Homo sapiens: one gene and its partners. Changing the gene in region 3 together with the main gene of any one other region gives a genetic interaction. Each region holds a gene or a part of one and is shown on either strand. Other genes may lie near its edges.

Region 1 (3,655 bases), on a different chromosome or scaffold from region 3:
GTGGCTCACACCTGTAATCCCAGCACTTTGGGAGGCTGAGGCAGGTGGGTCATCTGAGGTCAGGGGTTTGAGACCAGCCTGGCCCACATGGTGAAACCCCATCTCTACTAAAAATACAAAAATTAGCCAGGCGTGGTGGTGCATGCCTGTAATCCCAACTACTCAGGAGGCTGAGGCATGAGAATCACTTGAACCCGGGAGGCAGAGGTTGCAGTGAGCCAAGATTGCATCACTGCACTCCAGCCTGGGCAACAGAGCAAGACCCTGTCTCAAAAACAAAAACAAACAAACAAACAAAAATATATATATGCTTGAAAATTGCTAAGAGAGTAGATTTTAGTTGTTCTTACCACACAAAAAAATAAGTATTTGCGGTAATGGGTATATATTTGAGGTAATGGATTTGTTAATTAGCTTGATTTAGCCATTCCACAATGAGTACATCTATCAACACATGTTGTACATCATGAATATACACAATTTTTATTTGCCAAAAAATGTTTAAATATGCCATAAGTAAATTAAATAAAATAAATTTCTTAGAACATTATTTATAAAAATAAAGCAAAAAACCAGATCTGTCCAAATATAACTAATAAACTGACTCTCATTATTTAACACTCAAGAGTTGGCTGGCATCAGGATTTTCATAATACCATGGCCATTAAACAGTTTTCGTGAATCCAGGCCTTCGTTACCCATCTCTTCTGCTTCTTCCTCACCTTACTGACTTCTTTCTCATGTACACAGAGTGCGGAATATCTGTCTCATGAGTCACCAGCCTTTGGGCAGAACCCAAAAAATTAGGTGAACTAGAAATATATTGTTGCTAAGTGGCTCGGTTTATCAGACAATTCTAAAATGCCTACTAGGCTGCCTAGCTGCATACTTTTCTGCCTAATGTACAGGACCTCCATCTTGTGACTGTCAAAACAGGCTCCTAAATTATTTTGCATCATTTGGTGACAGGCAGTCTATACTCTTGTGCAACCAACAGGTGCCCAATAAATGCTTGGAATATGCAAGGAACTTGGCATTGTTTAATATAATTGAAAAAGCAAGCATGGACTTTGAAACTTTCCTGAATTTGAATTCTGTCTCCACTCCTTATCACCTTTAAGAATTTAGGGCCTGGTGCGGTGGCTCATGCCTATAATCCCAGCACTTTGGGAGGCTGAGGCGGGTGGATCACTTGAGATCAGGAGTTCGAGACCAGCCTAGCCAACATGGTGAAACCCCATCTCTACTAAAAATATAAAAAATTAGCCGGGCATGGTGGTGCATGCTTATAATCCCAACTACTTGGGAGGCTGAGGCAGGAGAATCGCTTGAACCCAGGAGGCAGAGGTTGCCGTGAGCCGAGATCCCACCATTGCACTCCAGCCTGGGCAACAAGAGTGAAACTCCATCTAAAAAAAAAAAAGAATTTAGGGAAGTTATTATCTTCCTGCATCTCCTTTCTCCTCCTATGTAAAATGAAAATAATAATGTCTAATTCATAAGCGTTTCATAAGGATATGATGAAAGCCCGATGCAGTAGCTCACGCCTGTAATCCCAGCACTTTGAGAGGCTGATGTGGGTGGGTCACTTGAAGTCAGTAGTTCGAGACTAGCCTAGCCAACATGGTGAAACCCTGTCTCTACTAAAAATACAAAAACTAGCTGGGCATGGTGGCAGGCGCCTGTAATCCCAGCTACCCGGGAGGCTAAGGCAGGAGAATCGCTTGAACTCAGGAGACTGAGGTTGCGGTGAGCTGAGATCGTGTCACTGCACTCCAGCCTGGGCAACAGTGCCAGACTCTGTCTCAAAAAAAAAGCCCGGGCATGGTGGCTCACGCCTGTAATCCCATAATCCCAGCACTTTTGGAGGCCAAGGTGGGCGGATCACCTGAGGTCAGGAGTTCGAGACAGCCTGACCAATATGGAGAAACCACATCTCAACTAAAAATACAAAATTAGCAGGGCATGGTGGCGCATGTCTGTAATCCCAGCTACTCGGGAGGCTGAGGCAGGAGAATCACTTGAACCCAGGAGGCGGAGATTGCAGTGAGCTGAGATTGCACCGTTGCGTTCCAGCCTGGGCAACAAGAGCGAAACTTCGTCTCAAAAAAAAAAAAAAAAAAAAAAGTGATACCACAACAGCTAGAAGAGGAGGCCAAACTGTTTTTTTTTTTTTTTTGAGACAGAGTCTCGCTCTGTCACCCAGGCTGGAGTGCAGTGGTGCGATCTCGGCTCACTACAACCTCCGCCTACCTGGTTCAAGTGATTCTCCTGCCTCAGGCTCCTGAGTAGCTGGGAGTACAGGCGCGCGCCACCACGCCCAGCTAATTTTTTGTATTTTTAGTAAAGACGGGGTTTCACAGTGTTAGCCAGGATGGTCTCAATCTCTTGACCTTGTGATCCACCTGCCTCGGCCTCCCAAAGTGCTGGGATTACAGGAGTGAGTCACCGCGCCCAGCCCCCATTTTACATTTTTTTATTTGTGCCCACTGCCTTTTTTCAGAGGATGCAGTTAGCAATTTCAGCCACTGGATGGTGCAAATTCACAAGAGTCCAGTGAAAGTTCCTCAATTACGGTCCAAGGTGCACCTGTTGCTACACTGCACCAAGTGAAGGAGGGTGGGGTAAAGGAAAGACTTTTTGGATCTGAAATTTCAGTATAAACATGGATCGAAGTTCACTAGAAGTTCAGATTGAGGGAAATTTTTAGAATTTGATCACTGACAAATCAGGTCATTGAATAAGGAAAGACAAAAGAAAAGTGTTGTAATAATGAAGAGGAAGAGAAAAAGGAACAGATGATGAAATATGAGGGAAAATAAGTCTAAAGAGATGAATTCAAGTGTTAGCAACAATTATAGTATGACCCTTTACTGGTTTGCATCTCCCTGGTAACTGATAGCAACTTTGATATAAAAATAAAGCTTACTTCATTCTCTTCTAGAAAGTCAGCTATGCTACCCTTAGCTTATCCATTTGGTGGTGTGACATTATCAACAAATATTTTTAGTATCTGCTATGAACATGGTGCTTTGTTGATACAAAGTAATATAGAGATATACAAATTAACACAGATACTGGGCTTCAAGCAGAAGAACCAGTAAGTACATATAAGAAGATAAGTAATTGACTGGATTAAGAAAATGTGGCACATATACACTATGGAATACTATGCAGCCATAAGAAAGGATGAGTTCATGTCCTTTGTAGGGACATGGATGAAGCTGGAAACCATCATTCTGAGCAAATATCGCAAGGACAGAAAACCAAACATCGCATGTTCTCACTCATAGGTGGAAATTGAACAATGAGAACACTTGGACACAGGGCTGGGAACATCACACATCAGCGCCTGTCGTGGGGTGGGGGGATGGGGGAGGGATAGCATTAGGAGAAATACCTAATGTAAATGACGAGTTAATGGGTGCAGCAAACCAACATGGCACATGTATACATATGTAATAAACCTGGACATTGTGCACATGTACCCTAGAATTTAAAGTATAATACTACTACTACTATTACTAATAATAGGGAAGATAAGTAATTCAAGGCAACCTGAGGGCCATTGTGTCAACTCAGAAAATGGAATACTTTTTGAAAGTGGGAGTGGAGTATCAGTGGGATGGGGAGGAAGGGATCATAGGACTCTCAA
Region 2 (3,655 bases), on a different chromosome or scaffold from region 3:
TACTGCTACTACTGGCCAGTGATGAAAGCCATTTGCACAGAGCTCTGCCTTCTGTGGTTTTCCCTTCTTCATCCTACAGAGTAAAGTGTTAGTCCTATTTATACATTTTTCAAGATACAAGTTTATGAGAGAAATAGTATTATAACCCCAGTATGTTTAATCTTTTAGCTGTGGACTTTTTTTTTAACCGTACAAAACTGAAAGAACCATAGAGGTCAAGCCTCAGTGACTTGACACCATAAAGCCACAGACAAGGTACTTGGGGGGGAGGGCAGGGAAATTTCATATTTTATAGTGGATTCTTAAGAAATACTAACACTTGAGTATTAGCAATAATTACAGGAAAATAAGTGCGACCACATATATCTTAACATTACTGAATTAAAACTATGGCTTCTAAGTCCTTATCCAAACTCAGTCATCCAAACTAGTTTATTTTTTTCTCCAGTTGATTATCTTTTAATTTTTAATTTTGCTAAAGGTGGTTTTTTTGTGTTTTGTTTTTTGTAAACCAAAACTATACTAAGTATAGTAATTATATATATATATATATTTTTTCCCCTCCCCCTCTTCTTTCCTAACTAATTCTGAGCAGGGTAATCAGTGAACAAAGTGTTGAAAATTGTTCCCAGAAGGTAATTTTCATAGATGTTTGCATTAGCTCCATAGCAAAATGGAATGGTACGTGACATTTAGGGTAGCTGATATTTTTATTTTGTTAAATAATTTCCAAGAATAGAGTATGGTGTATATTATAAATTTCTTTGATAAGATGTATTTTGAATGTCTTTTAATCTTCCTCCTCCTCTCCAAAAAAATCAGAAACCTCTTTAAGAAAACATGTAGGTTATATATGCTAGAATTGCATTTAATCACTGTGAAAAGACTGGTCAGCCTGCATTAGTATGACAGTAGGGGGGCTGTTAGAATTGCTGCTATACTGGTGGTATGGATTATCATGGCATTGGAATTTTCATAGTAATGCAGATCCAATTTCTTTGTGGTACCTGCAGTTTACAAAATAATTTGACTTCAGTGAGCATATTGGTATCTGGATGTTCCAATTTAGAACTAAACCATATTTATTACAAAAAGATATTAATCCCTCTACTCCCAGGTTCCCTTTATATGTTAAGATATAATGGCTTTGAGGGGGGAAAAAATAAACCTAGGGGAGAGGGGAGTTTCCTGTAGTGCTGTTTCATTAGAGGATTTCAGTAAATTAAATTCCACAGCTAATTCAATAAATAATGGTACATTTAAGTGTTCTGATTTTAATAATATATTTCACATTTATCCACACAGTAACAATGTAATATGTTAATGTAAATAAAATTGGTTTTGATACTCAGAAATAACAAGAATTTAATTTTTTAAATTTGTTTACAGTCCTGGGAAAAGTAAGAATTATTTGCCAAAATAAGAGGAAAGAAAACCTTAGTATTATTAATGAGTTTACCATAGAATTGTTGGAAATACTGAAGACAGGTGCAATTTACTAAACTTTTGTTTTTAAACTATTGTAGAGGCTGCATTAGAAGAAAATGTTTATAATGACAGAGCAACTATGACTATATAAAAAAGCTGAAATTAGAACTGTGTTTAGAAATAGATCAGTAACCCAGTGCCAAGGATGCCAAGCTGCCACCATGGTCTTGGCTCTCCCACAACCCAGTGTTTCTGGGGTAAGTTTCACAGTTTCTAGGCCCTGGAATAGCAGGCAGTGTAAGCCTTTGATAACTTTAGTTCGATGTTTTTCTTGTTTTTGTTTGTTGGTTTGGTGCATATGATAGTGGGTGTTATGCTATTTTGCTCTTCCCATCAAAATAAAGAAACTTCCAGAGGTTTACTGTTAAAAATACTGATATTTCCATAAACGGGTTTACCAAGGGTGTAGTATTTCATACCGCCTGAAATGATCAGCATTGGCACAAATCAAAATTCAGCCGCCTTTGAAATGCAAAAATACCTTTGACTAGTAAGTACATCCTAGGAGTTTGAAAACTTAACTAAGGTTTAAAATTTACCTTGTTTAAAGAACTTCTGACTTTTGAGGAAAATCTAGCTTTCCAAGTAACTAAAATGTACATGAGATAAACCTCTCACCACTATGTGTCCCTTGAGAAATGCAACACTTTTTTAGTCTTCATACTTGTAATCTATAAAAGAAATTCTGAAGTTTAGACCAAGTTGCCCATTTCTGCGTAATTGACATAAGTTCTGTTAAAAATATTATAAGTAATTCGTTTCGGTTTGTAGATGTTTCCCCTGACTTGTTAAAGAGGAAACCAGGAACTCAGTCATGTTTTTGTCCTGGATAATCTACCTGTTATGCCAGTACTCCCATCCGAGGGGCATGCCCTTAGTTGCCCAGATGGAGATGCAGTTCAGTAGATTTGGGGCAAAGTGGCTACAGCTCTGTCTTCCATTCACTCAACACCTGTTCATGACTGAGCCAGGTGCCCAGGACACATCCTAAACAGTCAGCTTCTATCCTGTGTCCTAGTTGGGGAGACAGAGTGCCAGCCAGCAACCCTCCCAGGTTTGTAGGTTTTAGGGGTTTTCAGTTTTGTTTGGGTTTTTTGTTTTTTGTTTTTGTTTCTACATCCTTCCCCGACTCCCAGGCATAATGAGGCATGTCTTACTCAATGTTATGCAATGGATTTAGGCAAAAATTCATTCTTAGTGTCAGCCACACAATTTTTTTTAATGCAGTATATTCACCTGTAAATAGTTTGTGTAAAATTTGACAAAAAAAGTATATTTACTATACTGTAAATATATGTGATGATATATTGTATTATTTTGCTTTTTTGTAAAGCAGTTAGTTGCTGCACATGGATAACAACAAAAATTTGATTATTCTCGTGTTAGTATTGTTAACTTCTTTTTGCGACTGCGTTACATCATTTAAAGAAAATGCTGTGTATTGTAAACTTAAATTGTATATGATAACTTACTGTCCTTTCCATCCGGGCCTAAACTTTGGCAGTTCCTTTGTCTACAACCTTGTTAATACTGTAAACAGTTGTACGCCAGCAGGAAAAATACTGCCCAACAGACAAAATCGATCATTGTAGGGGAAAATCATAGAAATCCATTTCAGATCTTTATTGTTCCTCACCCCATTTTCCTCCTTGTGTATGTACTTCCCCCACCCCCCTTTTTTTAAGTAAAATGTAAATTCAATCTGCTCTAAGATATGAGGAGTTATTTAATTTCTTCAGATGTATCGAGCTCTGTTTTCTTCCCCCCGAGTCCTCCCAATCTTTTGAAACATTAAGGCCATTTTCCTTAAGGATGTTTTTGGCTCTCCTACTCCCCGTGAGAAAGATCTTTCCATTTCCAGAACTTCTCCACACTAAAAGTGAAATATTTTTGTGAAATGCTTTTTTAGGGCCTGCCAAACTCAGGTGAGTCTGTTCTCTGGGATAAGCTGGCTTCTCTTAAAATGAAGCCAGTCAGAAATGTCAGGGCATCCCAAGATTGACCAGTCAGAGGGCAGTTCTCTCCAACTTTTCAGCTTTCCCGCTATAGAATCTTCTGTGACACTACACGTGTATACAATGTAAACCACCTCCCCTGGCTCAGCTGCCCCGTGTTACTATTTTACTTACTTGATTATGTGGGTTGCCTCCCCCAATCAGTGGAGAAA
Region 3 (3,655 bases):
CGTCTTGGCCTCCCAAAGTGCTGGGATTACAGGCGTGAGCCACTGTGCCTGGCCAAATGCCCAGCTAAAATTTTTTTTTTTTAAGATGGAGCTTCACCCTTGTTGCCCGGGCTGGAGTGCATTGGCAAAATCTCGGCTCACTGCAACCTCCGCCTCCCAGGTTCAAGTGATTCTCCTGCCTCAGCCTCCCAAGTAGCTGGGATTACAGGCATGTGCCACCATGCCTGGCTAATTTTGTATTTTTCGTAGAGACAGAGTTTCTCCATGTTGGTCAGGCTGGTCTCATACTCCCGACCTCAGGTGATCCGCCCGCCTCAGCCTCCCAAAGTGCTGGGATTACAGGCATGAGCCCCCGCGCCCAGCCTCTTTTTAAAATATTGGAAAATTACTGATAAAACTAAAGATCCTTTTGACCCCTTATTTTCCCATCTTAGAATCCTTTCCTTTTTCCTTAGAATAATTTCAGTTATGACTTAGTTGTGCTTTTGTTCAGATTTTTTTAAATACTTTTTTTTAACTTTTTAGTAGCGATCAGGTCTCACTATGTTGCCCAGGCTGGTCTCCAACTGCTGAGCTCAAGTGAACCTCCTGCCTCAGCATCCCACAGTGCTGAGATTACAGGCGTGAGCCACTACACCCAGCCTCAGATTTTTCAAAATACTCTTTTTTGAGACAGAGTCTCGCTCTGTTGCCCAGGCTGGAGTGCAATGGTGCGATCTCAGCTCACTGCAACCTCCTCCTCCCAGGTTCAAGCGATTCTCCTGCCTCAGCCTCCCAAGTAGCTGGGATTACAGGCGCCCACCACCACACCCGGTTGATTTTTGTATTTTTAGTAGAAACAGGGTTTTACCATGTTGGCCAGGCTGGTCTGGAACTCCTGACCTTAAGTGATCTGCCCACCTCGGCCTCCCAAAGTGCTGGGATTACAGGCGTGAGCCACCACGCCCGGCTTAAAAATACTTCTAAACATACATGTGCCAGGCTGGGTGCGGTGGCTCATGCCTGTAATCCCAGTACCTTGGGAGGACCGAGGCAGGCGGATCTCATGAGGCCAGGAATTCAAGACCAGCCTAGCCAACATGACCAAAAATACAAAAATTAGCCTGGTGTAATGGCGCATGCCCATAATCCCAGCTACTCAGGAGGCTGAGACATGAGAATCACTTGAAGGACACGGAGGTTGCGGTAAGCTGAGATCATGACATTACACTCCAGCCTGGGTGACAGAGCAAGACTCTTGTCTCAAAAAAAAAAAAAAACAAGTGCCAATAGAAAATGCAAGTATTTTCTCACATCATTGATGTGCTCTCTGCATGGTTCTGCAGTTTACTATTTTAAATCAATTATGTACGTCTTAAATTTCTCCACCTTGACACATTTAGTGATCCAGCAAATGCATTTAAAATTGTGATACTTCATTGTATGAATATACCATATTTCATTTAGCCTTTTACCTAGTAGTAAATGTATATCATCAGGTTGGTGCACAAGTAATTGCAGTTTTTACCATTGAAAGTAATGGTAGGCTGGGTGCAGTGGCTCATGCCTCTAATCTTAGCACTTTGGGAGGCCCCGGTGGGCAGATTGCCTGAGCTCAGGAGTTCAATACCAGCCTGGGCAACATAGTGAAACCCTATCTCTACTAAAAATACAAAAAAAAAGTTATCCGGGTATGGTGGTGTGCACCGGTGAGCCAAGATCACGCCATTGCACTCCAGCCTGGGCGACAGAGTAAGACTCCGTCTCAAAAAAACAAAAGGAGAAAGTAATGGTAAACAACCTAATAGATTATTTCAGATTTTTTGCTTTTACCCACAGGACTATAATACATTTCTTGTCAGTTCTCCTAGGGTAGCTATATATTATTAGATGTTGACTATCAGGGCTTTTTTGGCCTCTAAACATGATATTTAGTCAAACAACTGTCTTAATTTTTTTTTTCTATTCTCCATAGGGATGCCATTGAAAAGTTATTTCCTGATGCCATTAGACTGAGATTTGAAGACATTCAGCAGAATAATGACATAGTCCAAAGTCTTGCAGCCTTTCAGAAATATGGGAATGATCAGATTCCTTTAGCTCCTAACACAGGCCGAGCGAATCAGCAGATGGGAGGGGGATTCTTTTCCGGTGTGCTCACAGCTTTAACTGGAGTGGCAGTAAGTTGATCACTGTGTTCCTCTGTGCCCCCCCACACCTCACCCCCCGACCCCTGATTTCCACTGAAGTCAGTTCTGTTGAAATCACTGAAATAATTGATGATGTGACTCCATGTAATTTACTACGTACATTGAAATCTGCTGGGTTCTATGATTTCCTCAGGAATGTTGCTTACTCAGGTAGATCAGATCATAGTACCTAGTAAATGGAGAAAGGTGGTAGAACTGGAATTCAAGACCATGTCTGCCTTGGTAATACAATCTTTTTTTGTTTTGTTTTGTTTTTGAGACGGACTCTTGCTCTGTCGCCCAGGCTGGAGTGCAGTGGTGCGATCTAGGTAAAAACTTTCTTTTAGGGTGGTGAAAATGAACTAAAACCAGCTGTGGTGATGATGACACATATTTGTGAACACATTAAAAACCGTGGATTGTGTGCACTTCAAATGTGTGAATTTTATGTGGATTACATCTCTTGCTCTTTTTTTTTTTTTTTTTTTTTTTGAGATGAAGTCTTGCCCTGTTGCCTAGGCTAGAGTGCGGTGGCATGATCTCGGCTCACTGCCACCTCCACCTCCCGAGTTCAAGTGATTCTTCTGCCTCAGCTTCCCAAGTAGCTGGGATTACAGGCATGCGCCACTACAAGAGGCTAATTTTTGTGTGATTAGTAGAGATGGGGTTTCACCATGTTGGCCAGGCTGGTCTGGAACTCCTGACCTCAAGTGATCCACCCGCCTCAGACTCCTCAAGTGCTGGGATTATAGGCGTGAGCCACCACGCCTGGACCTCCTTGGTAATACAGTCTTAAGAACCCACCAGTTTACTAACTTCCAATGTGGAGACTATTTTCTTTTAAAGTTCTGTGCATAAAAAATCTAAATGTTTTTCCAGTAGAAAAGGCACAAGTCAGTTATGTTGAGCAAGTTGATGGAGTCAAGGCACCACCTGCTCCCAGGTGCCTGAGATAAGTCCTTTTCTCGCCTCTGTGCCCTCACTGCCACGCAATCAGCAGAGAGAGGCACCCGAGGAGAGCTGTGGTCCCCAGTTCTCTGTGGCCGTGGCGTTGCCCTGCTTTTGTTGCCCTGCTTCTGTGTACGGGCTCCGCATCATTCCCTGTGAGCTCAGCCTCTTCCTTTCCCCACCTCCCACCCGCATATTTAGAAACTGGCATCTCTGCCTCTCCATGGTTTAAAGTCCCTGTCACTTTTCCCCAGGTGGTCCTGCTCGTCTATCACTGGAGCAGCAGGGAATCTGAACACGACCTCCTGGTCCACAAGGCTGTGGCCAAATGGACGGCGGAAGAAGTTGTCCTCTGGCTGGAGCAGCTGGGCCCTTGGGCATCTCTTTACAGGGAAAGGTTTTTATCTGAACGAGTAAATGGAAGGTGAGGAGCAAAGTCTTCTGACACACCGTGGACATTTTAGAAAACAGCTTTCTTGAGATATAATCCAGGCCAGGCGCGGTGGCTCACACCTGGATCCCAGCACTTTGGGAGGCCG

Evidence for each region.
Region 1: changes in BFAR (region 3) and ACACA together harm fitness less than expected from each alone (positive genetic interaction), as found in Homo sapiens cells (one large-scale study listed by BioGRID).
Region 2: changes in BFAR (region 3) and NF1 together harm fitness more than expected from each alone (negative genetic interaction), as found in Homo sapiens cells (one large-scale study listed by BioGRID).

What each region holds. Positions count from the first base shown.
Region 1 is NC_000017.11:37,396,754-37,400,408, reverse strand, and holds part of ACACA (acetyl-CoA carboxylase 1), read left to right. Parts: intron 1-3,655. UniProt on the Homo sapiens protein: Cytosolic enzyme that catalyzes the carboxylation of acetyl-CoA to malonyl-CoA, the first and rate-limiting step of de novo fatty acid biosynthesis.
Region 2 is NC_000017.11:31,374,477-31,378,131, forward strand, and holds the end of NF1 (neurofibromin), read left to right. Parts: 3' UTR 1-3,199; downstream 3,200-3,655. UniProt on the Homo sapiens protein: Stimulates the GTPase activity of Ras. NF1 shows greater affinity for Ras GAP, but lower specific activity. May be a regulator of Ras activity.
Region 3 is NC_000016.10:14,646,434-14,650,088, forward strand, and holds part of BFAR (bifunctional apoptosis regulator), read left to right. Parts: intron 1-1,954; coding exon 1,955-2,159; intron 2,160-3,370; coding exon 3,371-3,540; intron 3,541-3,655. UniProt on the Homo sapiens protein: Membrane-bound E3 ubiquitin ligase that plays a role in several processes including apoptosis regulation or reticulum endoplasmic stress. Has anti-apoptotic activity, both for apoptosis triggered via death-receptors and via mitochondrial factors.